Regions from separate parts of the Homo sapiens genome. Here regions 2 and 3 are each linked to region 1. The links come from fine-mapping of genetic effects on gene expression. A gene starts in region 1. Each other region holds a variant in brackets. All regions are shown on one strand. Distances are between the middles of the regions. Region 1 holds the start of MIOS-DT (MIOS divergent transcript). Region 2 overlaps COL28A1 (collagen type XXVIII alpha 1 chain). Region 3 overlaps COL28A1 (collagen type XXVIII alpha 1 chain).

Region 1 (8,555 bases):
TCTGGGCCAAGTTAATACCTGCTCAACCTTGACGTCAACCACCCTCCATCCCCTCCCTAGTCGAGGTCTGGTTACTCAGACATACACTGTCATTAAACAGTATTCTTTCCCTTTAATCATCCATCTCTGTCTCTTCTACTGGATTATACACTCCATGAGAGCAGGTGAAGTATTTTTGGTGTTCCATTGTACCTCTAGTCCCCAGTACAGTGCTAGGCACTTAGTAGGAAGTTAATAAACATTTGTTAAATAAATGCATGTGCTGAATGATCCCTCTGACACTTCTCACAACTGCTATCTCCAAGTTTTACCTATTTCCTCATGCTTCCACTTCTACGCTCCCTAGGAGAGGCTGGCTCCGGCCAAGATTTAAATGTCTGCTATTATACTTTCATTTATTCTGTGACTATTGATTGGGCACCTTCTATGTTCTAGGCATGGTTATGAAGCTGGGAACACAGCAGCAAACATGAGCCGATGAAGTCTCTGGTCTAAAAAAAACCTGCACTGTAGTGATAAAATTAAGTCCAACCTTAAAAAGAGTTTCAAAATTTAAGAATGAGGAGGAAGAGGGGCACCTCACGTAACAGGAAGCAGCTACGACAGCAAAGAGGAACAGATACTGCCAAATAAGGGTTCATACTCATACCCCCACAAAGGAAATCTCTTAATTGGAGACATCATGAGATCTGGGCCATTTTCCCATCTCATTGAAAAATCAATGTTTAAATAAACACACTTTTTATCTAGGCTTTCATTCCACAACCCGACTCTTTATACCAATGGTCTATGGTAAGCAATCTTGATGCCACAAAGAAAAATCCATCTTACAAAACATAAAATACGAGTTTTAGCATAAAATTTAAAACTTTGATTTACATGACTCTCAACGGAGAATATCAGCATTTCTTCCCATGTTATGCACCTAAAATACTTCTATTGCCATCCACAAAATCTGATGACAGTAATTCATACAGAATCAAAACTTGAGAGAAAAAGACTAGCTAAATCTTCTAATTTCACAAAGGAGTAAAGTGAAGACCAGATGTTTGGGTGGTTATCCAAGGTCTCTCAACTTCCGTCCTAGATTACTGCAAAGAAAAGGATCAGCTACACGATATGCAGGACGTGGTGCAAAATAACAATGCAGGGCCCCTCATTTAAAAATTATTTACAATGTCCAGACAGTGACAGCAGACTGGCCATTAAACTAAGTGCTAGCCATTCTAAATGCTGGGCTCTGTGCTACTGCACAGGTTGCACATCATAAGAGTAGCCCTGTATAGAGAGGTGCATCTATGTCCACCCTTTTAAGAAGTGTATTTTTTTTCACCATGTAATATACAGGATAAACAGTTCCTTGCTCATGAACATACATCACCAAGAATCTGGTGTAAAGAAAACAATCTAGAGTCAGAAATCCTACAGCCACTCCCCAGCTCAGATCCTAACAAATCTTGTAATACTCCAAAACCATAAAACCGAGATAAAATCTATCCCATTTCCATCTCACAAAGCTGTGACAATCAACTGAAATGAGCTCTTCACATCACACAGATGTTAGTATTACTACCATTCCCTTAATCAGCCCTGAAAGTTAATGTTTTTTCCAAATTTTGGAGACATTAAAAAATTAGGTGTAGAAGGGGTGCGGTCTGCAATAATTACAGCTTGTATTTATATCCTCACCTTTCAAGTTTAACAAGTCTCACTTCCCATCAGTGATTTCTCAGCAAAGGAAAGCCATGCTGATTCTGTGTTCATTCACCAGAATATTTGCAACAGCACTGTCCAAAAGAAATACAGTGTGAGCCATATGATTTAAAAATTTCTAGTAGCCACATTTAAAAAGTAAAATTAGGTGGAATGAAATTTAAAAACACATTTTATTTAGCCAACATATCAACAGCATTATCCTTTCAATATGTAATCAATGCAAAAATTATTGAGGATTTTTACGTTTTTTTGGCACCAACTCTGGGAAATCCGATGTGTATTTTACACTTATAGCACATCTCAATCCCATGTGGCTACTGGACAGTGAAGTCCAACACATTAAAATACTACTCAGTGTACAAAGGATCCAACCACATGCTTTTTGATGTTGTCTTTTACTTTTCTTACCGTGGCAAATTACGAGAGCGGTTTCAAGAAATTTCCACCATCAGCATCTTCGAGGAGATGCACTGCACATATCCAAATTTCCCTTAAAATATACAAAAGGCCTGCAGTCATTTGCTAACCTATTCAGCAAAGTCCACAACATGTGTGAGGTTTCATTCATCCTCTTAATTTTCATTACTCATATGAGAAGAGAACAGAGCTCACCGGGAGACAGGCCGTTTAAGAAGTATAGTATTTAAGAGGGTACAACGGGAACAGGGCACGTTGCTATTCTAGGTAAAGCAGGAATCTGAGTCCGACTCTCCCGCTCCAGGCACCTGGCTGAGCCTCCCGGGAAAGGCTGGGACGCCGCTCCCCACAAGCCCGCCGCGGCGAAGGCTGTAGCGTGTTCCCTGCGCCCCGAGGAGGTCTCCGCAGGTCCCACGGCCGCCCGCAGCCCCCGGTGGCTCCCGCTGAGGCCCGGCCAGGCGGCCGGCCGCCCGGCGCGATTACCCTACAGCGCGGAACGCGCTCCCCGCCGAGACGCCCGGGCCTTTCAACTAGGCTATCTCCGGCCCCTCGCTGCGGCCGCGGCGCTCCCGAGAGTCGAGACGCGAACCGGGTCGCGCTCACTGACCTGAGGTGGCAGCGCGGCCGCCGCACAGCCGCTTCCGGCCGGGACACCGCCCCGCCCGCCGCAGGAGCCCGGACGCGGGCAAGATGGCGGCCGCGGCCGTGCGGCCCGTGACCTGGACCACTGGGCTGGGACCCACGACCCCACCACCACGCCTGGAGGACGCGCAGCGGCGCCTCGGCCTTGGAAGGGGAGTTTCCCAGCGCGAGCCCCGCCCTTCCCCGCCCGGGAGGCGCCTCGGGGCGGGGTCACTGGCCGGGAGGCCCCGCCTTCCGCCCGAAAGCGCCGGTGCACCCCGCAGGCCCTGCCCGTGGGTCCACAGGCCGGATCCCCGGGTTCCTAGGCTGGGACTGCTTCTCAGAACCACTCTGTCGTTTTTAAGCAGGGTCACACACTCTAGCTCACTGGGTCCATTTTAATTTCTATTAAACATTTTTTTTTTTTTGCAAATGATGTAGTAGGAGATCCAAGGTGTTTGGTTAATGATTTATTCACTCATTAGTCATTCCACAAACTTGTCTTGAGCACCTGTTATGTACCCAGCACTGTGCTGGAATGCTGAGGAGACAGGAGTGAAGTAAAAAGACATGGTTCCGGCAGGAAACAGGCAAGGAGAGCCTTGACTTGGTAGGGCTAACACAGTGCTACACAGGAGGGACGCCCGCTCGGTGTCGGGGGTCAGCAAAGCTTCCTTAAGGACCACTAGGTTGAGACAAGAAGGATGAGTATGGGATTAGCCAGGAAAGGGAAAAGGGCAGTGGGAACTGGAAGAGAAGAGCCTTCTAGGACTGGGAAAGAGCAAGTGCCGGGTCAGGAGAGAGGACATAGCAGTGAGGAGGCAGTAGGTATGGATGAATGAGCAGAGGAAGTGGGGAGAGATTAAGGTGCTTTCAGAAACGGGTTGGAAACCAGTTTAGTGAGTTTGGATGGCATTTACCTAAAGGCAATGTTAGAGTCATCGAAAGTTTTTAATCAGGCAAGTGGTATGATCAGTTTTTTGTTTTGTTTTGTTTTTTTTGAGACGGAGTCTGGCTATATCGCCAGGCTGGAATGCAATGGCGCGATCTCTCCTCACTGCAACCTCCGCCTCCCGGGTTCAAGCGATTCTCCTGCCTCAGCACCTCGAGTAGCTGGGACTACAGGCGCGCGCCACCACGCCCAGGTAATTTTTTGTATTTTTAGGAGAGATGGGGTTTCACCATGTTGGCGAGGGTGGTCTCATTTCTTGACCTCGTGATGCGCCCACCTCGGTCTCCCAAAGTGCTGGGATTACAGGCATGAGCCACTGTGCCCGGCCAGTATGATCAGTTTTTGCGCAGAGAGCTGGAGGGATAGAGTATCAGAATGAGGGATGATAGAAACGCAGGTTACCAGTGGCACGGAGAGTGGGCATGGAGAGAAGTGGGGGCCCTGGGGAATACTTAGAAGGCGGGATGAACAGAGCTTGGTGACTGACCAAGTGAATGACGGTGAAAGAGGATTCCAAGTTTTTTGTTCCCAAAACTGAGTGAATGGTGCTGCCTCAGGTGTCACGAGTCTGACCTCGAGGCAGTCTTCAGATGTCTGACAGTCTTTGCTTGTCTGTTCATGATTAAAAGTGGGTGGTCTTGGGCTTGTGGTGGTGATGGCTGTAAACAGCATAATGAGCTTAGTCCTGATGATCTTGGTGGCAGATGGTTTTGATAAGATGATGAGTTTGGGGAAAGTATTGCCTTTCCAATCCTGCCATTAGAAGAATGTAGGCTGAAGAAAGTGCTGTATTACTGAGAGGAGACATGACAGTATTCATCACTTCAAACACTATCTTGCCAATCTTCTCAGTGGTTTTGACCCTGGCCTCAAACCCCCACACAAAACCTCAGATCAATACAAATCTCTTCCTTATCCACTCCTACTATACATAGTTGAGGACAACTTTTCTGCTTGCACTCAGGAGATGACACTGCCTCCTACTTCAGAAAAGAAAATTAAAACTATTAGCTAGAATTTGCACAACCTCCCACTGCTTCCTCCTTCCCTCCTCCAACATCTTGATTCACTACCATTCTTACCTTCTTTTAGGTGACAAAGAGTAAGAGGAGGAACCCCATGTATATCTCCTCTTCTGGGACCTTGCACCATCAATTACTTCACTTCCATGTATCTTTGCCTCTCCATTTCTACTGGTTCTTTACTTTCAACACATACTCAAGTTATTCCCATTTTCTCTTCAAAGGAGAGGATCATATTTGCTCTCTGTAATTCCACTTCCCCCTCTCTCCCTTGAATTCACTCCATTCAGTCCTTCATGCCCACCATGCCACGAAACTGCCACTTGTCAAGGTCACCTGTGAGCTCCATGCTGCCAGTTTCAATGGCCAAAGCTTCACTCTTGCAACTTCTGTTGTTCTTGACTACTTCCTCTCTTGACATGTCTCATTCACTTTGTTGCATATCATCACTTTCTTCTGGTTTGTCTTTTATCCCTGTGACTTCACTGTTCCTTAAACATGACAAGCATGCTCTTGCCTCAGGGCTTCTTCACTAGCTATTCCCTCTGTCTGGAATGCAGAAATCTACATGACTCATACTCTCCCTTTACTCAAGACTGCTCACTTGTCACTGACTACCTATAAATTAGCTCCTTTGTTGTTGTCTTTATGACACCACAACTTCACATACGTCGCCATCTCTTTACTTTCCTATAGTTATCTTCTAGACTGTGTCTTCTCCTTATCTCCAGTTTTCATTCTGTATTTTTTTTCTTTTTAGTAAGAGGAAATAACTCTACATTCAAATTTGAGCAGGGCACTTGGTGACCTACTTAGACATGACATTCCTTGGCCTCCCTTTCAGCAAGGTAAGGCTATATCAAAAAGTTATGTCCTGTAAGATGTGAGTAGAACTGGATCATGTCCCTTAAAAGGAAAGCTGCTTGCTATACACTTTCTCTTCCCTCTTCTTGCTGTCTGGCAAATGGCAAAAAGAAATACAGACTGGAAATGGAAGCCATGTATTAAGGAAGGCAAAGCTGTTCTCACTAGCCTAAGTCCCAAACTAATCTCAGGGAGCTGGGGCACCTCCTCCCTTGGATCAACCACAGACTTCTGGACCATTATGCAAGAGAAAATAAACTTTGTTCTTTAAAAAATCATTGTTTGTTTGGACCTGGTAGAGCAGCTTAGCCAATTCCCTAATTAAAACAGAGGGGCTCTGTCTATTTTATTCTCTGCTTAATCACCAGGATGTAAAACAGTACCTAATAAATGTGGTAAATAAAAATGTATTGAATAAATCCTAAAACAACGTATTTATTCTACATCCTCCTCCAGCTAATGTCCCTTTTTCAACTTTCTTTTCCACTCAAGCTTTGTGAAAGTATATATTTTTTCATATTGCCACTAATTCTTCTAAAGCCCCTCACAGGAATAAGTGACACCTTTCTCAGTCTTTTTGGAAACTGATTCCCCTTCTCTACTAAACCAAGATCCTTGCAGGTAGCAATCTTTTAGCATGGAACTTTGGATTTCCCTTAGCACCTGTTGCATAGGTATCCAAAAAATATTTACTGAGTTGAGTGAGTGCTTTGTATCTTTGGAAACAGTAAACCGTAGCAGAGAACTTGACAGACTGGTCTGAGATTACACTAGTTGCCTTTACTAAACATGCGTTTTACAATAGATCCTAGGGCCACTGTAGTTCAGTCTCGGTATTTTGTTTGTTTTTAATTTAAGCTTTTGTATTCCTAATAGGATTTTTTTATTGTTGTTTTTTTGAGATGGAGCCTCGCTCTGTCGCCCAGGCTGGAGTGCTGTGGTGTAGTCTCAACTCACCACAATCACTGCCTCCCAGGTTCAAGTGATTCTCCTGCCTCAGCCTCCTGAGTAGCTGGGATTACAGGCATGCGCCACCATGCCTGGCTAATTTTTATATTTTCAGTAGAGATGGGATTTCACCATGTTGGCCAGGCTGGTCTCGAACTCCTGACCTCAAGTGATCTGCCTGCCTCATCCTCCCAAAGTGCTGGGATTACAGGCATGAGCCACTGCGCTTGGCCAGGATGTTCTTTTTAAGATTCTTCATTTATGTTGTGGTGATCCAGGAGAGGATTTTTGTTGTGGTTTTAAAACCAGAAGGATTGCAGTTGAAGGACAGCGAATTTCTTTCTTATTTACAGCTGCTCCTGGCAGCAATTCAGTTACTACAGTACTGGAACATTTTGTGAAGTCTGTGACTGGCTAATCCCAATTCTTTTTATTTCCACATGCACAAAATCAGTCTGTACCTGAGAGCAAGTTTTGCTTTTAGATGGAGGCTGGGCAGGTATCAAGCTGAAATGAAGCCCTGTAAACATGTGCCATGGCTTAGGTAATCTTTTCACATAGGTTGAAGATCAGAAGATCAGAGATATCTTAAAATAATGGCCTTCAAAAACTTTTCTAGAATATCCCCAAATAAATTTTTTAAATCAATGCATTTCTTCATGCATTTTGGGATTACACCTAACATTGTCAAAACAAATTTACATAGTTGTCAAGTATATGATTTGTAATATTTTTTAAATCTTTAAATTATAAGCAAAACAGGGCTGGGTGTGGTGGCTCATGCTTGTAATCCCAGCACTTTGAGAGGCCGAGGCAGGTGGATCACCTGAGGTCAGAAGTTCAGGACTAGTCTGGCCAACATGGTGAAAGCCCGTCTCTATTAAAAATACAAAAATTAGCAAGGCATGGTGGTGCGCACTTGTAGTCCCAGCTACTTGGGAGGCTGAGGCAGGAAAATCGCTTGAATGCGGGAGGCAGAGGTTGCAGTGAGTCAAGACTATGCCACTGCACTCCAGCCTGGGCAACAGAGTGAGACTCTGTCTCCAAAAAAAAAAAAAAAAAAAAAAGTTTTTGGAAAAATTTGACAAAGCATATCATGTGAATTCAGATTTACCTCAATACCAAGAATTATGTTTAAATAGGACAAGGAAGATTTTTTAAGTTTTTATTTTAAGTTTAGGGGTACATGTGCAGGTTTGCCATATAGGTAAACTCATGTTATGGGGGTTTGTTATATAGATTATTTAGTTACTCAGGGATTAAGCCTAGTACCTGTTATTTTCCCTGATTCTCTCCCTTGTCTCACCCTCCACCCCTGGTAGGCCCTAATGTCTGTTGTTTCCCTCTATGCGTCCATGTGTTCTCATCTTTTAGCTTCCGCTTATAAATGAGAACATGCGATATTTGGTTTTTTGTTCCTGCATTAGTTTGCTAAGGATAATGGCCTCCAGGTCCATCCATGTTCCTGCAGGGGACATGATCTCATTCTTTTTTACGGCTGCATAGTATTCCATGGTGTATATTTACCACATTTCTTTTAACCAGTCTACCATTGATGGCCACTTAGGTTGATTCCATGTCTTTGTTATTGTGAATAGTGCCACGACAAACAGACATGTGCATGTGTCTTTATAATAGAATGATTTATATTCTTTTGGGTATATACCCAGTAATGGGATTGCTGGGTCAAATGATAGTTCTGTTTTTAGGTCTTTGAGGAGTCGCCACACTGTTTTCCACCATGGGTGAACTAAATTATATTCTCACTAACAGTGTATAAGCATTCTTTTTTCTCTGCAACCTTGCCAGCATCTGTTATTTTTTGACTTTTCAGTAATAGTCATTCTGACTGGGGTGAGATGGTACCTCGTTGTGGTTTTGATTTGCATTTCTCTAATGATCAGTAATGTTGAGCTTTTTTTTTTCATATACTTGTTGGCCACATGTATGTCTTCTCTGGAAAAGTGTCTGTTTATGTCCTTTGCCCACTTTTTAATAGGGTTTTTGTTTTTTGC
Region 2 (8,555 bases), 43 kb after region 1:
TCAAAAAGAAGAAAAAAAAAAGATATTGCTCATTGTTAAAAGATTTTAAAGTGACAAATATTTAAATTTTTCTTTATTTCAGTAGTGGTTTTTAAATATTACAATTTGACTTGAATTATTAGTTGTTTTACTGCCTCTGTTGAACTTCTTTTGAATTTCTTTTCTCTCTCTTTCTCCCAGAGGAAACCACTCTCTGACGTGGTTTGAAATATCTTACGTATTTTAATAAATCAGATCATATTGTATGTATCTATCTACAACTTGCTTTTGCACTCAATGTTTTTTTGGAAATTTTGTTGAAATGTGTAGATCCAATGCATTCACTTTAACTGCCGAGTAGTATTTCATTTGCTGATCCATTCCACTATTGGCAATTATTTTATTTACAGTTTTTCATTACAAAAAACAATGAATGCTGAAATGTGCAAGTGCAAGAATTTCCCTGTGGTATGTCTAGAAAGGATGTCAGGATAACAGGCAAAAGCAAGAATTGTCCTGGCAGCCTCGTGATAAAGCAGGTCCATCTTCAGCCTTGTAGGCATAACCAAATGTTCTACAGAGGGTAATACCATTTTAACTAAAACTATCAGTGTATCTGAGTTCCTATTTCTCCATAGGACCTCCTAGCTCTTAAAGATACAAATATCTCATCTGCTTTCAGCCTGGATTTACATGGCTAGTAATTTAAAATCGTTTGGTTGGGAGGGGTGGTAGGTGAGACTCTAAATTTTGTAGCTAGTGTCTGTGGCTAGGGTTTTATAGCTCCTGAGATCATGTAGTCAAACTTTGTCCTTTTTTATATATGGAGAAAATTACCTGGAAGGATTGTATGACTTGTCCAAGGCCACATAGCTAGTTAATTGTTGAAACGGGATGGAAACCCAGAATGACACTTAATTCCCAGCCTAATTTTTTCCCTATTAAATCATTAAAGCATTTTGTTATCTCGTCCCTCTATAGTATTAGTTTGTACGGAAATAAAGTAAAAATAAAACTAAAGGGATGCAGCATCCTTCATAAAGCTACATACTCTTATTTAACTTCCTTGTTAGCTTCTGCATTTTTAATATCTTGCAACAAATATTCCAGTGCTTGCTCCTTCATCTTTCTATTTTATCGTATGTAAATTACCCCTTCAGATGAAATCACAAGGCACTGGTTTGACACATAATTTCTAGGTTAAGAAAGTACTAATTCTATATATAAACATAGATTAGTTTCTTTCCAGCGTTTGTCTTCCAACACAGCCTTCAGTGCACTTGTCAGGTAATATCCCACTGAATTCAAGTATGGTAGTGAGGCCTAGGTGTTAGACAAAAACAAGATCATGACATTTCTGCAAAATTATAAATTTAAAATAGTTTTGAAAAATATTCTGGCTAATTCATTCCTGTATGGTACATATGACATGCACTGAAGACGGTCAGGAGGTGCAGCCCAAGTGTGTTACCTCAGTTGAGTCACATTATGGTGGAACCATGTTTCCTTATTGCAAAGCAAGAGGTTGAGTCTGATTGACTAAGACTCATTAAATTTGTTTTTTTGTTTTTCATAATGATCATTTTTTATTATGAAATATGTATTACTTTTCTATCACTTAGTTTTTCCCCTAAGTTAGCCAGTTATAAATGTAAGTCCTCTTTTACATAAGTAATGCATATTGCTATGAACAGTTCAAAATTTTTACCAAAATATTATTCCTAATACTGTTTAAATTTAAAAGCTGAGTATCTTTTTTGGCTTCTGTTGAAATTCTGTAAATAAAGTATCATATTGGAGGCTTTTCAAATTTGAAATAGAAAACTCCTCCCCTAGTGATCATAATAATGGAAATCTTTGTCTTCTCATAATTCAGATCATCTCAAAAAATGTCACTGGACTTTGTAATTTTCTCTTTTTGAGTTTTAATATGATCTAACACCCATTAATATTTCATGAAGTTATGACTATATTGTTTTAATCTTGAAAAATAAATCATGAAAAATAGATGCATGTATATGTGCATAGGGATGGAAAAAATTGAAAATATACAATTATATATTCTGCCTCAGTCTTTGTATGTAAAAGTGAGAGCTTTGTCATTATGACTGATTAACTTTATAGTCAAATTATGGAGATTACAGAGCTGATAAAGGAAACAAAAGATAAAACATAGAATGCAGTAAGATGAAGTTCCTAGAAAATATAGGTTAATTTTTAATGGTAGTTATATCTCTTATTATTACATGGCTCGGACTGCTCCTTGGGTGGTTGGCTGGTTGGTTTTATTGCTTTTACAAGTTTAAAAAGGCTGAATTGCTATTCTTTGTGGAAACTTCATATCCCATAGGGAATAGTTATGACTAATAAGTAGCTGGAGGCAGAACTATCAATCGAGTTAATGCTTCATTCTTTTTTCCCTTGTAGGATATCTTATTTGAAAAGAAGGTAAGCACCACATGCTTTGATTACTACGAATTACTCCAAACACTTGCATTATCAAATCAGCATTATAATTCACATTAGAAGATTAAGTGTGACTAAATAAAAATGCTTAGTTCTTTTAAAATGAGCCACTCTATTCTGAGGCAGCCATCTGATTTCTTTTATACTACCATATTCAATGCAAGTTGGAAAATTTAGAAAAAGTAGGAAATATTGAATGTGACTCCAGGAGTGATTTTAGAAATCAGTCATGAGCAAACTACATAGTTTTTGCTTACTTTGATGTGCTTCCTTTATTCTAAGCATGTATCTGACATCAGCCACATCAGGTCCTCTATTTTGGGGGGTGTTCCTGGTGTTGGCTAGGTTAGGCAGAGGGTTCCCAGCTAAGAGACAGAGTCTAGAGTCATCCCCTGCTGCCTGCCAATTGACTTTGAGCTCATTCTCCTTATTGTGAAGAAAAGGCAGCCTGATGATGGCAACCAGACCACGTGGCAAAGGAAACTGGCCAATAAGATTGGACGAGCCTTAGCACAATAGATAATCATCAGCTTGCTGAGGAGTCCTGTCCTGGACATGCATTTCTTAAAAGAAAGAGTTTGGAACATCTGAGCTTTGTTCAATGAGCTGCTTATTTAACATCAGGAAATTTACAAGTATTGTTGCATAAAATAATAGGAGTCAACCAAACCTACGTCACACCATGTTTTATTGAATTGTACATGTTCGGATATACCATTATGTTATGTACCATTAAGAAAGGAAAAAAAAAACGGCCAGGCATGGTCGCTCACGCCTGTAATCCCAGCAGTTTGGGAGGCCGAGGCAGGTGGATCATGAGGTCAGGAGATCGAGACCATCCTGGCCAACATGCTGAAACCCCGTCTCTACTAAAAATACAAAAAAGTTAGCTGGGGGTGATGGTGCATGACTGTAGTCCCAGCTACTCAGGAGGCTGAGGCAGGAGAATCACTTGAACCCAGGAGGCAGAGGTTGCAGTGAGCCAAGATTGCTGCTGCATTCCAGCCTGGTGGCAGAGTGAGACTCCCGTTTAAAAAAAAAAAAAGAAAAGAAAGAAAGGAAAAAACCCTTGCTAGCTTATCTATGATACAGTGTCTTCTTATTAATTGCACTTTTTATTTTATACCTGTGGAAATAAGTTTTTAGACATTTTGGATGTAGAT[T/A]TTAAAATCCTGTATCACTTTCATATATACATATAAGGGAATATGTAAGCAAAATAACTTGGTTATTTCTAAAACTTCTTCACATCAGACTCTAAATCAAGCTTGTCCAACTCGCGGCCCACAGGCTACATGCAGCCCAGGATGACTTTGAATGCGGACCAACACAAATTTATAAACTTTTTAAAAACGTTATAAAATGTATGCACGGCCCTTTTTTTTTTTTTTTTTTTTTTTTTTTTTTGCTCTTCAGCTATCGTTAGTGTTAGTGTATTTTATGCGTGGCCCAAGGCAATTCTTCTTCTTCCAATGTGGCCCAGGGAAGCCAAAAGATTAGACACCCCTGGTAAATCTGAATCATTTTTTGTCTGAGTTGTTGATGTCCTTGTTTTTCTGCGTAATACTGACCTCTATGCCAGCAAAACCATTGGTGATGAAGCATTTCTTAAGTATGTTCTGGAATTTTCTCCCATTTCATTCTGTAAGTTTTGAAGTGCATGTGCAAAAAGCAACTACTTTGTCATGACTGAACCTGGTCAACAGCTGTTATAAGACTCATTCTGATTTCAGAGTTGTTAAAATGAGGAAGAAGGTGCATCTTACAATTATCTTACAATTAGTAAAATATGCTATAAGTCAAATGTTTTCCTTTGCCTAGTAAAGGAGCATTTAATATTATTATATTATTGAGCTTTGATGTGTTATATAGAAGAGAAGGATCAGAAATTCTAAAAGTCCACTGAAAATATTTATTTTCTCCTTTTAACTGGCATCTATATATTATACATGTATTTTTGATGGGATGTCTTTTATTTAACTATGCTGAAATTTAATAATATTTTGTTAGCTAGCTCTTGGTAGGTATAAATTTGCCTGGAATAATTTAATAGAGAGAGCAAAACATCCATAAATGTGCAAGGTAAAATTTCTTTGAGAGTGCTCCAGTTGGTTATATACTGAATACAATTTGAAATGCTATTTGAAATTTATTTGAAATACACTTTGAAATGTATTTGAAATACAATTTGAAATGCTGCATACAATTTGAATTTCACTGTGTGTTAATATCATATTTCATTATTGATTCAGTGTGAACGCAAGATTTGTGAATGTGAGAAGGGAGATCCAGGTGATCCAGGGCCTCCTGTGAGTATACTTCCACTTTGAACTTAAGTCAGAAAGTCCTAGCAATGATAGCTCTACTCGCTCTTGAAAACATCGGGGCTATTTTGCACTGCTGAAAAGCAATTGTTTGGAAATGGGAGGAAAAATGGAAATGCTACTTCTTTCTTTTATTTCTAAAGGGACACATTCTATCCTTAGAAATAAGCCTGGGATTTTACTGACCTGAACTGAGGGCAGGTGTGTTTTGAAGTTGTTCCCACAAAGGACATTTATATTCCTCCTCATAAAATAATTGAAGCCAGAATTTCTCAATAGTGAAGTGAATACAGAAAAAGCTAATACAAATAATCAGTGCTTTAAGCAAAGCTTTATCCTACTAGAAACATGGAGTACAAGCCTCTCTGAAAGTTAAATGTTGGCTTCACACGAATGCAGCAGTGCAGCAGCAACACCGTGTGGCCTCATGGACAGGAAGCTGGTCACGATGCTTTGGGGGATTAGGGTGAGTTCTGTGAAATGGAAGTAAGCACATGGCAACCAAAAATAAATGGCAGGATTGACTATGATGATTCATTGTTTGATAAGATAATCCAGGAAGGAGTGCTTTCTTTATATTCTGGCCTAATAACTGGTAGGTGCCATGTCTGTACTGGGAAGGCATTTGAAATGACATCTAGATCACTGGAAATGCTGAGCATTTTTTTAACATTTATCTTCATAAAGCATTCACGTGCTCATTCAGTCTTCTATTTATTTGTATAATTCCAAATATCATCCTTAGAGTTCAGAAGAAGCCCTATGGAGAATCTCACAAAATGCATGGATAAAAATTTTCAACTAATGCTTGTATTTGGGGGTGGGAGGGGAATGTGTACTGTGAATGAATTAGAATGTGACAAATTTTACCTTGAGACTCGGGTCCAAAGCCTACAATTTTTCAAACCATCCTACCAATCAAGGGATGTTTTTCTCCCCAAATACAAAGTTAGATGCGTTATATGATAGTGGGGCAGCCAGTAGAAGCTGACTTTGGCTAAAGCAAAGGTTTAGCCATCCCTTCCTATAAAGTCTTCGTTTATCTCTATGACACCAAGAGATGGCCAGGGTAAGAAATATTTCTTTATATTTTAAAATGAGCAATAAGAAAGCTCACAATTGCTAAGCACCTGACAATTTTAGTCACATTCTTGTCACATTTTAGTAGGGATAAGCCACAGAATATGTTATTTAACATTATCGAGTACCCCCAACACCATTTCTCAGAAAAGCAAGCTTTCTGGTTGATTAGGAACAGGAAAACAAAATGCTTTTCTGGAACAGGATTACAGAGCTCCTTTCTCCCATCTTTTGAGATTGTCTCCTGGATATCAGAACCTCTTTGACCAAAGGCAAGCAAGCTAGCTTGGTCCTTTTAAAAGTGAGTGACAGAGGGAATCGTAGAAGTGACCCACAATGAAGAGAGATTGGGAACAACTCCTATCCTTCTGCCTGTTGCAGCTACTCTTTTAAATCTTTGCATGAGTTTGATTTTGTTTGCAAAACTGCTGAGAAGTGATTGTTTTGGGAAGAAGTAATTGGTGGGAAGAGAGAAACATTATTCTCTTTTGAGCAAATCTAGAAAATCTGCCAATTCAAGACAGTGGTTTTCCTGGTGTAGAAAAAGGGAGAAGAGAATTGAATTTCTGCTTGGCAGGTAAAGGTTTTACAATTCTCCCTCATTCTAGGAAACAAAACTGATCAGAAATTATTATAAAGTATAGAAAACAATAGAATTCCTACTTAAAATAATATTTTTTCCCTTTGCCTTCAGGGTACACATGGAAATCCAGGTATCAAAGGTGAGCGAGGACCAAAAGGAAACCCGGTAAATGAATAAACAGCTTTTCTTTAAACCAGCGTATCTCCTTCTAGACTTTTTTTTTAAAACAACAATTTTAAAAATAAAAAGCATTGTAGTATATGGCAAAAATGTGACAACTTTTGTGAAGAATACAGGATTTCCACTTCCTATATTATCTATCTTATTTCTATTAGCTTGAATTCACAAATTCTGAGTAACATATATGAACATTTTAGTCAGTAAGTTTAGGAAACCTAGGGACATTGAATAAACAGAAACTAGTACTTAAACGATAGCAGCCAATCTTATTTAGGATGATGATTCAGCAACTAGTAATATGTGTTCCATATCAGATTGACACTGGCACTTGTGTTTTTAATGGGTATACTTTTAATGATTAACTGACTGACAATAATCATAGAAAAACCACCAGATTGTTTCTCACTCCCAGAGCATCTTCAAGGACTTCTCGAATTCTTTTCTCTGTGTACCTATCAAAAAAAATCCCAGGCTTTTAAAGAAAACATTCATCTGTTCAGATCATTGTTAGGATTTTGGTTCCAAGTTCAAGAACAACAGCAGTAATCACAAAGAGAAAAGTAGATATAACTATGTGAAAATTTAAGGCAAAATTCTGTGTAATGAAAAAAATAATAATTAAAGAAAAGGGAGTGATATGCTTTGGTTATGTCCCCACTCAAATCTCATCTTGAATTGTACGTAGCTCCCATGATTCCCACATGTGGTGGGAGAGACTGGTGGGAGGTAATTAAATCATAGGGGGCGGGTCTTTCCCATGCTGTTCTTGTGATAGTGAGTAAGTCACATGAGATCTGATGGTTTTATAAGGGGAAGTTCCCCTACATAAGCTCTCTTGCCTGTCACCATGTAAGATGTGGCTTTGTTCCTGCTTCACCTTCCTCCATGATTATGAGGTCTCCCCAGCACTGTGGAACTGTGAGTCCATTAAACCTCTTTGCTTTATAAACTACCCAGTCTCAGGTGTGTCTTTGTTAGCAGCATGAGAATGTCCTAATATAAGGAAGGAATATTAAAGAAATAGAAATATCAGGAAATATTTGCATCAAATGTAATGGACATTGGGTTAATTTCTACAGTACACTGAGTTAATTTCTGAACACAATTTTCAAGAGAGGAAACAAAACTAGTAAAGAAAAAAGTAAAAGCACATTTAATTTCATTAGGTAATAAAATAAATTTAAATAGAGAGAATGAGATATCCTTTAGTAGTGATACTTACATTTTAGAAACTTTGGAATCCAGAGGATTATTTTTTTCTGGAAGTGGTTTTCTAGTTCACATCATTTGTTTTTGTGTGTGTTTTGACGTTTAAAAACATTTCTTTCATTATAGCAATTAACACAGCAATATTAAAACAATAATAACTAGTGATAGCAATGTGGCAGTGAAACTGGTTTGCTTTTCATTGCAGGTAACTTGACACAAATAGTTTGGGAAAAATTAGGCAATAAGTAAGAGGTACTCAAATACTAACAAAGTTAACTATTACATTAAAAATTAACTCAAAAATGAACTCTAAAACAGCCCTATTAGAAAGTTTTTAGAGAGGTAATGAAAAAAATCAAAAGTTAAATGCATAAAAGCATTTTTGGCAATTGTCTGCTTGTCAAGGAAAGGGAATATAGCAGCCTTGGATAGCTTTACAACATACACACACATGCTCAACCAAACAACCCTATACTCACTCATCTTATATACGTCCAAACTGATGCTATCATGTCTTCTTTTTTTTGTGTTAAATACCCATTATAAATGTAAGTTCACATTTTATTTCTTTGGTTTGTAATTTTGTGCCACATAATATATTTTCTTAAGTCTTGCTGAAATCAAGCAATCACTCTTGAGGACATTTTGGAAAACATTCCAAAGCCCCTTAGAGAAAAGCCAGAGTGACTGGCTCCAAGTGAGTATAATGATGTATTTGAGAACAATCGCTGTGTTGT
Region 3 (8,555 bases), 56 kb after region 1:
AAAAGTGATTTTCCATTTGCATTCAGAAATAAATGTTCAACTTGTTCTAAGTGAAAGCTCAGTTTTTCCTGGGTCAGTTTGACTCACGAAAGGATGTGAAGAGAGAACAGATTGCTTTTGATCAGAGGCATAGCTGGCTCTAAGAGTCACACCTCCCTCTTTCCTGCTCCTGATGCCTGCAAGAGCCCAGGCAGTACCCTAGGCAGAAATGTCAGGTTAATGGAAAGTGACTTGCAGCCTATGATAGTGTGCCTTGTTCAGCTACAGGTGACTGATAAGAACATGGACTTGAGAGCCTAACAGACTCAAATTTGTGGTCATGGACAAAGTATGTAATGTCTCTGAGCCTCATTTTGCTTATCTGTGAGTGGAGATATGTATATATACCTCGCAAGGCTGCTATGGGGATTAGCAATAATGTAAAGGCTATGGCACACACTTTGCATCCATAATTGGAGGTTACAGTTGTGATTTCCCTCCATAGAGCACTGCTGTTGAAACTGTGGTCTGCAGGCTGGCTGCCAGTCTGTGAATGGTTTGTTGCTATTCTGCAACAAGATAAAGCTTCCGCCAGCATATAAATCCACTATATTACAACGTATACTGTTTAAAGTTCAGCTGACATTTATTTTTCATAGCAAGACTTCCTTGATGAAAGAAGCAGTGCATTGATTTACATTTGAATGTAATTTCCTTGTCATTGTGTAGTGGCACTTCCAGTAACATGCCCTAGAGCAGTACAGAGGCAGAATAAAGAAGCAGCAGCAGAAGCTAGTGTTGAGAGCACTGGACTAGGAGTCATTGGGTAGCCTGTACATTTAAGTAAATCATTTGACATATCCAATTGTGTTTCCTTATCTTGAAAATGAGAATTGAATTGAGGATCAAAATAACGATATATATAAAAGCATTTTGAAAACTCTAAAGTGATTTATAAAGGAGATAATATTACTATGATTATGAAACTTTAGTCATTTTTCTGACTGTCACCTTTTAGTTCTAAGTAGTAGAAGTTTCAAAAGTCTGATATAATGGATTAGTATTCAGAGGTCCCAATTCTCCTTCTACTTGAGGAAACTAACCTTTTAAAAATATTTAGTTTTATTTAAAAAATTTAATGGACAAATCTAAAAAGTTCATATTTATTGTATTGTATAAAATATAATTTGATAAATGTATACATTATAAAATGGCTAAATTGAGCTAATTAACATATATATCACTTCACATAATGATCAGTTTTTGTGGTGAGAATGCTTAAAATCTACCCTTTTAGTGATTTTCAATACAAGACATTGTTATTAATGATAGTCATCGTGTTGAACAATAGATCTCTTGAACTTATTGCTCCTATCTAACTAGTTTTGTATCCTTTGGCCAACATTTCCCAAGTTTCCACCAATTACCCCTGGTAACCACCCTTCTACTCTGTGCTTCTGTGAGTTCAAATTTTTTAGATCTCACATATAAGTGAGATCATGCCATATTTGTCTTTCTGTTCCTGGCTTATTTCACTAAACATAATGTCTTCCAGGTTCAGGTTCATCTATGTTGTTACAAATGACAGGATTTCTTTCTCAAAGGCTGAATAATATTCCATTGTATACCACATTCTCTTTACTTAACCTTCTTAATTACAAAATTTTAATCTATAAAATTGGATTAATATTTATCTCAGACAGGTAATGTCAGATTAACTAAGATAAAATATTTATGATAAACTATCACTGATAAACTCTAAAGAATAACTCAAATGTTGTTTTTTCAGCAATATTCTAGGGAAGACAGGGAAGTAGAGCATAATAATGAAAAATATGTAGCATGCTTGCTGCCAAGCCCGGCTCTCCTACAGCAGTCCTCGCTAACTCATCATGGCACCTGTTCCCACTAACTCACGATGCAATCTCACTTCAGAACCTTTCTCTCACGGTTCTCCAGGTGAACACTACTAGGTGGTCAAGGTTGGTACTCAGGCTGAAGCATGGTGTTCTTGAAAAAATAGGAATTCCAAGTTAAAGTATCTGGGTTCAGACTCTGATTCTTTTACTTACTAGCTATTTGATAGAGGGAAATTATCTTGTTGAGTTTAAATGTTCTCAATTATAAAATAAGAATGATAAAGCTGATCTCCCTGGACCGTTATGTGGATTCAATTAAACCACATATGCAAAGGGCATCTAATATGTGATTAGATGCTAGGTTCCTTTTCTTCTAGTTTCATCCATTTCTTAAAAATGTCAAACCTTATTACATTGTTCCTGATTTATTCCTGTCAAGTTAAGGATGACTCTTGGGTAAAAATATTCAGATTTCAATGCCCATAAAACCCACAGTATTGAGGCTAATATTGTGTAGAAACCAAAAGAGTGCTTATGTTACAAGAGTCTGCTGGGAATTTAAAAAACAAACAAACAAACATTCTTAATAGTGAATGACTGCAAGTGTTCTCTTATTTATTTCACTTATTTATTTTTTAGGGTGAACGTGGGGAATGTGGTAAACCAGGGATAAAAGGTGACAAGGTAAGGAACATGTTTTTAAACTGCTTACAGCTGTGATCCCTTTTGGGTTGCGTTTCCTTAAGGGGAAATTCCTGGGCTGAATTATGGTGATCTCACTACTAGAGTTGGAATCAATGGCTCAATTTTTCACATCTGTAAAACATGTGGTAGAAAACAAAGTGATGCCTAACTCAATAATAGAACCCCCAAATGCCTTTTTTATGGACCATTAAGACTTCATTTTCTGACACCCTAACCTTGGAGGCCACGCCCACTGAATGTTATGGTAAAAAGAATTATTTAACCTGCAAAGTTAATTAAAGCTGCAGTTAGGTCAGGGTAGAAGTGCTTTCCAGATGCAAACACTGAAAACAGGCACTTTCCAAAATAGTGTGAAGAACTCTGAAATCAGTCAGTGAAATAGTTATAAACAGTGTGGTGCAACTAGACATAGAGATTTGGAATTTTGAAAATGTAGACACAAACAATTGGATAAATATTCACCTTTATTTTAAAAAATAAATATAGGCTGAACGCAGTGGCTAACACCTGTAATCCCAGCACTTTGGGAGGCCAAGGTGGGTGGATCACCTGAGGTCAGGAGTTTGAGACCAGCCTGACCAATACGGTGAAACACCATCTCTACTAAAAATACAAAAATTAGCCAGGCATGGTGGCGTGCACCTGTAGTCCCAGCTACTCAGGAGGCTGAGACAGGAAAATTGCTTGAACCCAGGAGGCAGACGTTGCAGTGAGCCAAGATCGTGCCACTGCACTCCAGCCTGGGTGACAGAGTGACTCCGTCTCAAAAATCAATCAATCAATCAATCAATCAATAATGAAAGCACTTAAATTTGGAAATAATATTATGTTAAAGAGTTCCTCAAAAGGCCAAATATATACAGAGAGTATATCTGAAACATGATGTTAAAGGGTCCAAAAAAGTACAGAGTAAAAATAAATAGTTTTCATTATATTAAGAACTATTAACATCATGCCACCAAGATACCAAACTTTTTCAGTTTCTATGTTATAATTCTGGAAGGGAGTCAAGGAGAGAAAATGAGGCAGAAGGTTAGGAGAAGAGGGTGAGATAATGACTTTGGCCCATGAAACTAAACACTTTAAATAGATTGAGACTTTCTGAATGCTTTTAAAGTACTGTAGAGTTAAAGTCAGGTGGATCTGCAAAAGGTAGGCTTGGTAATTATCTCTGGTCAAAATGGGAAATGTGAAAATGAATAGATTCTTCCTGGAGTATAACTGAACATGGAAGATGGACCTGGATATTGGCAATGCAGAAAAAGGGACACACATAGAATAGAATAGAAATGAAAGTCAAAGAATACCTGGGAAAACTAGATGAAATTAAAATGGTTGACAAAGGATATCATATTTCATTGACTAAGATGTCAGGGATTATTAAATGTCCCATTATTTTCCATACCAAAAAGGAATAACAACAACAAAAAAAACCCACTGCCAATTATAAATGTAAGGTGCAATTGACTGTAAAATATACCCCAATGTCAGAGATATAAAAATGTGAAAAAATGTGCCTTAGAACTGATGAGATATAGAGTCCTTGACACGAAGAGTTTACACAAGTTTGTTCAGAAAAACATATGAACAACATGAAGAGATAGAGAAGTGGAAATTAAAATGGCTAATAAATAAGAAAAATATCCGAATACAGTAGCAATCAGATAAGTGAAATTAATACATTAAAATTAGGCCGAAGTGGGAGGATCACTTGAGTCCAGGAGTTTGAGACCAGCCTGGGCAACATAGTGAGGCCCCGTCTCTACAAAAAATTTAAAAATTAGTTGGACATGTGCCTGTAATTCCAGATACTTGGGAAGCTGAGGTGGGAAGATTGCTTGAGTCCAGGGGGTTGAGGCTGCAGTGAGCTGTCATTGTGCCACTCTACTCCAGTTTGGGTAACAGAGCGAAACCCTG[T/C]CTCAAAAAAAACAAAATAGGCTGGGCGTGGTGGCTTATGCCTGTAATCCCAACACTTTTGGAGGCCAAGGTGGGCAGGTCATCAGAGGTCAGGAGTTTGAGACAAGCCTGGCTAACAAGGTGAAACCCTATCTCTACTAAAAATACAAAAATTAGCTGGGCATGGTGGTGCACACCTGTAATTTCAGCTACTCGGGAGGCTGGAGCAGGAGAATTGCTTGAACCTGGGAGGCAGAGGTTGCAGTGGACCGAGATTGTGCCATTGCACTCCAGCCTGGGGGACAGAGTAAGACTCCATCTCAAAAACAAAACAAAACCAACAATAAAACAATAAGGTATTATATCACCAGTGTGGGCAACTAGGGAGGCTGAGGTGGGAGGATTGCTTGAACCTGGGAGATAGAGGCTGCAGTGAGCTACTCCAGCCTGGGCAACAGAGCAAGACCCTGTCTCAAACAACAACAACAACAACACCAGCAACCAAAAGCAAACATACAAAAGTATTATATCACCTATCAAATTAGCAAACAGTGAAGTAATGTATAATACTAATTGTTGATGGGGAGCCCATAAGATGAAGATACACTCTCTCATACTCGGGTAGTGGAAATGATTAACAAACAAACTTTATGGAGGAAGTTTCTCTCTCTTTATTTCTATATATGGCATGAGAGACAAAGGACAGCCGGTGAACCTTAAATGTGCTTATGGTCTCTGCTTCCATCATCCTCTTCTAGTAGACTATTCTTAGGAGTGAATCAGAAGTTGGGCAGAGATTTATACATAAAGATGTTCATTATAATATTAGGTCAAAGCTAGGGAAATGAGTAAATAAATTATGGTAGTTCCCTATTCTTGACTATTATCTGTTTACTATGAGTTTTTAATGACATGGAAAAAGGAAATTTTTTTTTTTTTTTTGAGACAGAGTCTCGCTCTGTTGCCCAGGCTGGAGTGCAGTGGCGCGATCTCAGCTCACTGCAAGCTCCGCCTCCCGGGTTCACGCTATTCTCCTGCCTCAGCCTCCCCAGTAGCTGGGACTACAGGTGCCCGCCACCACGCCCGGCTAATTTTTTGTATTTTTAGTAGAGACAGGGTTTCACTGTGTTAGCCAGGATGGTCTCCATCTCCTGACCTCGTGATCCGCCCGCCTCGGCCTCCCAAAGTGCTGGGATTACAGGCGTGAGCCAGCACGCCTGGCCGGAAAAATATTTTTGATACAGTGTAAGGCCAAATGGGTAGGACACAAAATCAGACATACACTTTGATCACATTATTTGAAGAGGAATCTACTGGGAATAAAACTGGACGAAAATATGCCTAAAATGTTAACAGCATTTGCTTCTGTGTGATTTTTCAAATTGTTTATTTATATGTTTCTATAATTGTCAAAGTGTGTCAATTGTTAACAGGTTGTACTTTGATAAGCAAAAAAAAAAAGTGGAAATCTGGGGAAATAAAAACTAGACTATGTTCTCCCTCACAAAATAAATTTTAAAGGGTTTCCTGGTTATGGGACCGAATGAAATATTTTCTATTAGAAGAGTATTGAATATAAACAGTGTTTTGCCACGTTCAGTGTTTTGAAGATGAGCAAAAGAGTGATCTAGATAGCATGGAAATGCACTACATTGTTAATTTAACTGACATTACCCTGTCGGAAGGAAATAATATTCCAATAAGTTTATAGCCCTCTAAGGAATCTTATAAAGTAATTTCTTTACTGTAACCAAAATGACCAAAATGTCAATATGTAGGCAACGGACTTACATCTAAAATTGTATTTTCATGGAGATTGTTTACTGAAGGAAAGTTTGACACTCCTACCCCTTGGCTTGTTAATTAGGATTATTTCAGTTTATTGCCTTTGATGTTAAGATAACCAGGGAAGATGGCAATTACCGAGAACACATTTCCTTCCCTCCTACCTAAAATCACTGCACGTTGAAGATGTATATTTAGAGAGACTTATTTTCAATTTTATTCCACAGGGATCCCCAGGGCCATATGGACCAAAGGGACCCAGAGGAATTCAGGTAAGGGGGTTAAAACCAAATCTAAGTTTGAATTAGAATCACCTGGGGAGTTTTTAAACCATCCCCTTGCCCACTTGCACCCTCTGCCAGTTAAATCAGAATGTCTGGGGATTGAAGCCAGGCATTAATATTGTTTAAGATACCCAGAAGATTACAATGTGCAATAAATTTTGGAAACAACTTCCCTAATGTTTTCATTAACTTAACTAAGACTCCCTAAAGATAGGTACCAACAGGCAAGTATTAGTGAGCAGCTTAGGGGATGAAGTTAAAAAATTAAGAGTCTGGAAAGATGGAAAGTCAAGTGGTTAAAAGCAGGATGTAACTATTTTTGCACTGCTACTATAATGTAGTTGGAAAAGTTATGCATTTTATCTAAATCACAGTATATTTTTATTGTTCTATAACTAGATAATGTTCTATAATATGGACTGATTCTCTAAGGCATTTAAGTTAGACATCCATAGATTTCAGAAAATAATTTGAATCTTTTCCTAGCCTAGGAACTTATCTCTTCTAAAGTTATAATGGTGCTCTGTGTGAGGAGTTAATTTCAGTATTTCAAAAAGCCTACAGAAAATTATAATTTTACCCAGAATCTCCTAGACACCATCTAGTTAACCACTAACTTCTTTGCTTTAGCCTGGAAATGTCAGAGCCAGGCAGTCATTCTGGTTATCCCAGGTTCATTGGAAGCTCTAACGTCAGTTACATATGCCTTAGATATTTTAAAAAAGAAGATACTTAACTGGCAAAATATTTTTTAAAAGGAGTCAAGAACGTTGGAATAATGTTGGAAACACAGGTTTAGTAAACAAACATCTCGTTAATTAAATGTTTGCTCTTAGCATAAGTGCTATTTTGGAAGCTACGTATTTGACACAAGAAATTTTATCTCATCCCACTTCTCGATTGAATGTGATTTCAATTTAGCTCTGAGTTACACAGTCTAACTTCGATCGCCAGGATCTCTAGGGACCCTAAAGAATGATTCATTCCTGCTGGCCTTTTGTACACAGAACTAATTCTTGGTTTTCATCCTGGAGCAGGGAATTACTGGACCTCCAGGAGACCCAGGCCCAAAGGGGTTTCAAGGCAATAAGGTAATCTTACCCTTTGATTAAAGACAGGCAGAGTGCCTTTCCCCTAGTGCGCTATAGTAATGTATGTTTTATTAGGTAAAAGTCAATGGATTCTTTGAGGAAGTACCTTTGGAAATGCATAATAACCTGCAGATGTATACAGAGAATTAAGTCCTAATGCATTCAGGAAGTTAGCAGCATACCTTTATCATTTATTATTATGTTATTCAAAGAGGGATATTGTTAACTATAAGCCATTATCTAGAATCTTTGCTGTGTTTCCTTCTTACTCCTGACTTTTATTTATTTTATGGCTCATTAGAAACCAAAAAGCAATAACAAGTGACACAATTCAAACCACTCTATTTCTCAAATGTAATGCCACCTCAATATACACTTTATAGGGGAAGGAAATTTACAGTTGTTATACCAACAGAAATCAAGCTTTTTTTAATTACAGGGAAATCTCAACCATCAGCACCATGCTTGTAGTATCAGTCCACAGATAACCAGCCAAGACAAATAGGGAGGGGTTGAATACAAGCCACGCAGAACAAAAAGATGCAGATGGGAGGGATCTTTAAAGGCCTGGTTATAAGGCTCTCTTTTCCAATGAGAGTGACCATTAATTTGCTAAAACAAGCTGTTTAGTTCCTTTTTAACTCTTCTCAAAGCTTAGTAAATTTCACGGATATAGTAAATATCCAGTAAATGGTGTCGACTTAGTGATTTGAGTGGTATGGAATTTATGGCAGTAATAAAAGCAGAAGATGCCATCCTCAACTGACCCTAAAGAAAGCCAGCTTTTTAAGGGTGATATTAAACTGAAGTTGTAGGGAGCAGTTGGGCTACTTGAGAGAGAGGAAAGAGAGTGACAGTATAATATTTTTAATGAGATAATGACAGTGTGTGATTTACCAGGCCACTTTGAATTGGCAAATTAAAATAGAATGGGCTTCTCAGCAGGCATGTGCTTA

The links. PIP is the estimated chance that this variant, and not a neighbour inherited with it, causes the effect. A credible set is the group of variants that fine-mapping cannot tell apart.
Region 2: its variant is the best candidate, but not a certain one, in a credible set for the expression of MIOS-DT in spleen (GTEx, PIP 0.82).
Region 3: its variant is the best candidate, but not a certain one, in a credible set for the expression of MIOS-DT in skeletal muscle (GTEx, PIP 0.54).

What each region holds. Positions count from the first base shown.
Region 1 is chr7:7,561,258-7,569,812 of GRCh38, reverse strand. It overlaps MIOS-DT (MIOS divergent transcript), which reads left to right and starts at 3,748. Exons shown (of 5, transcript NR_110084.1): 1 at 3,748-3,899; 2 at 5,489-5,576. MIOS (meiosis regulator for oocyte development) reads right to left here and starts at 2,929. Exons shown (of 13, transcript NM_019005.4): 1 at 2,741-2,929; 2 at 2,125-2,206; 3 at 1,690-1,787. RefSeq lists enhancers at 502-561, 2,139-2,208 and a silencer at 2,459-3,108.
Region 2 is chr7:7,518,101-7,526,655 of GRCh38, reverse strand. It overlaps COL28A1 (collagen type XXVIII alpha 1 chain), which reads left to right. Exons shown (of 35, transcript NM_001037763.3): 4 at 2,407-2,427; 5 at 4,695-4,751; 6 at 6,541-6,594. Among named protein-coding and RNA genes, the nearest start is that of COL28A1, 13 kb to the left of the region's middle. The variant T/A (reference allele first, on the strand shown) is at 3,609.
Region 3 is chr7:7,505,058-7,513,612 of GRCh38, reverse strand. COL28A1 (collagen type XXVIII alpha 1 chain) reads left to right here. Exons shown (of 35, transcript NM_001037763.3): 9 at 2,478-2,522; 10 at 6,452-6,496; 11 at 7,546-7,599. Among named protein-coding and RNA genes, the nearest start is that of COL28A1, 27 kb to the left of the region's middle. The variant T/C (reference allele first, on the strand shown) is at 4,461.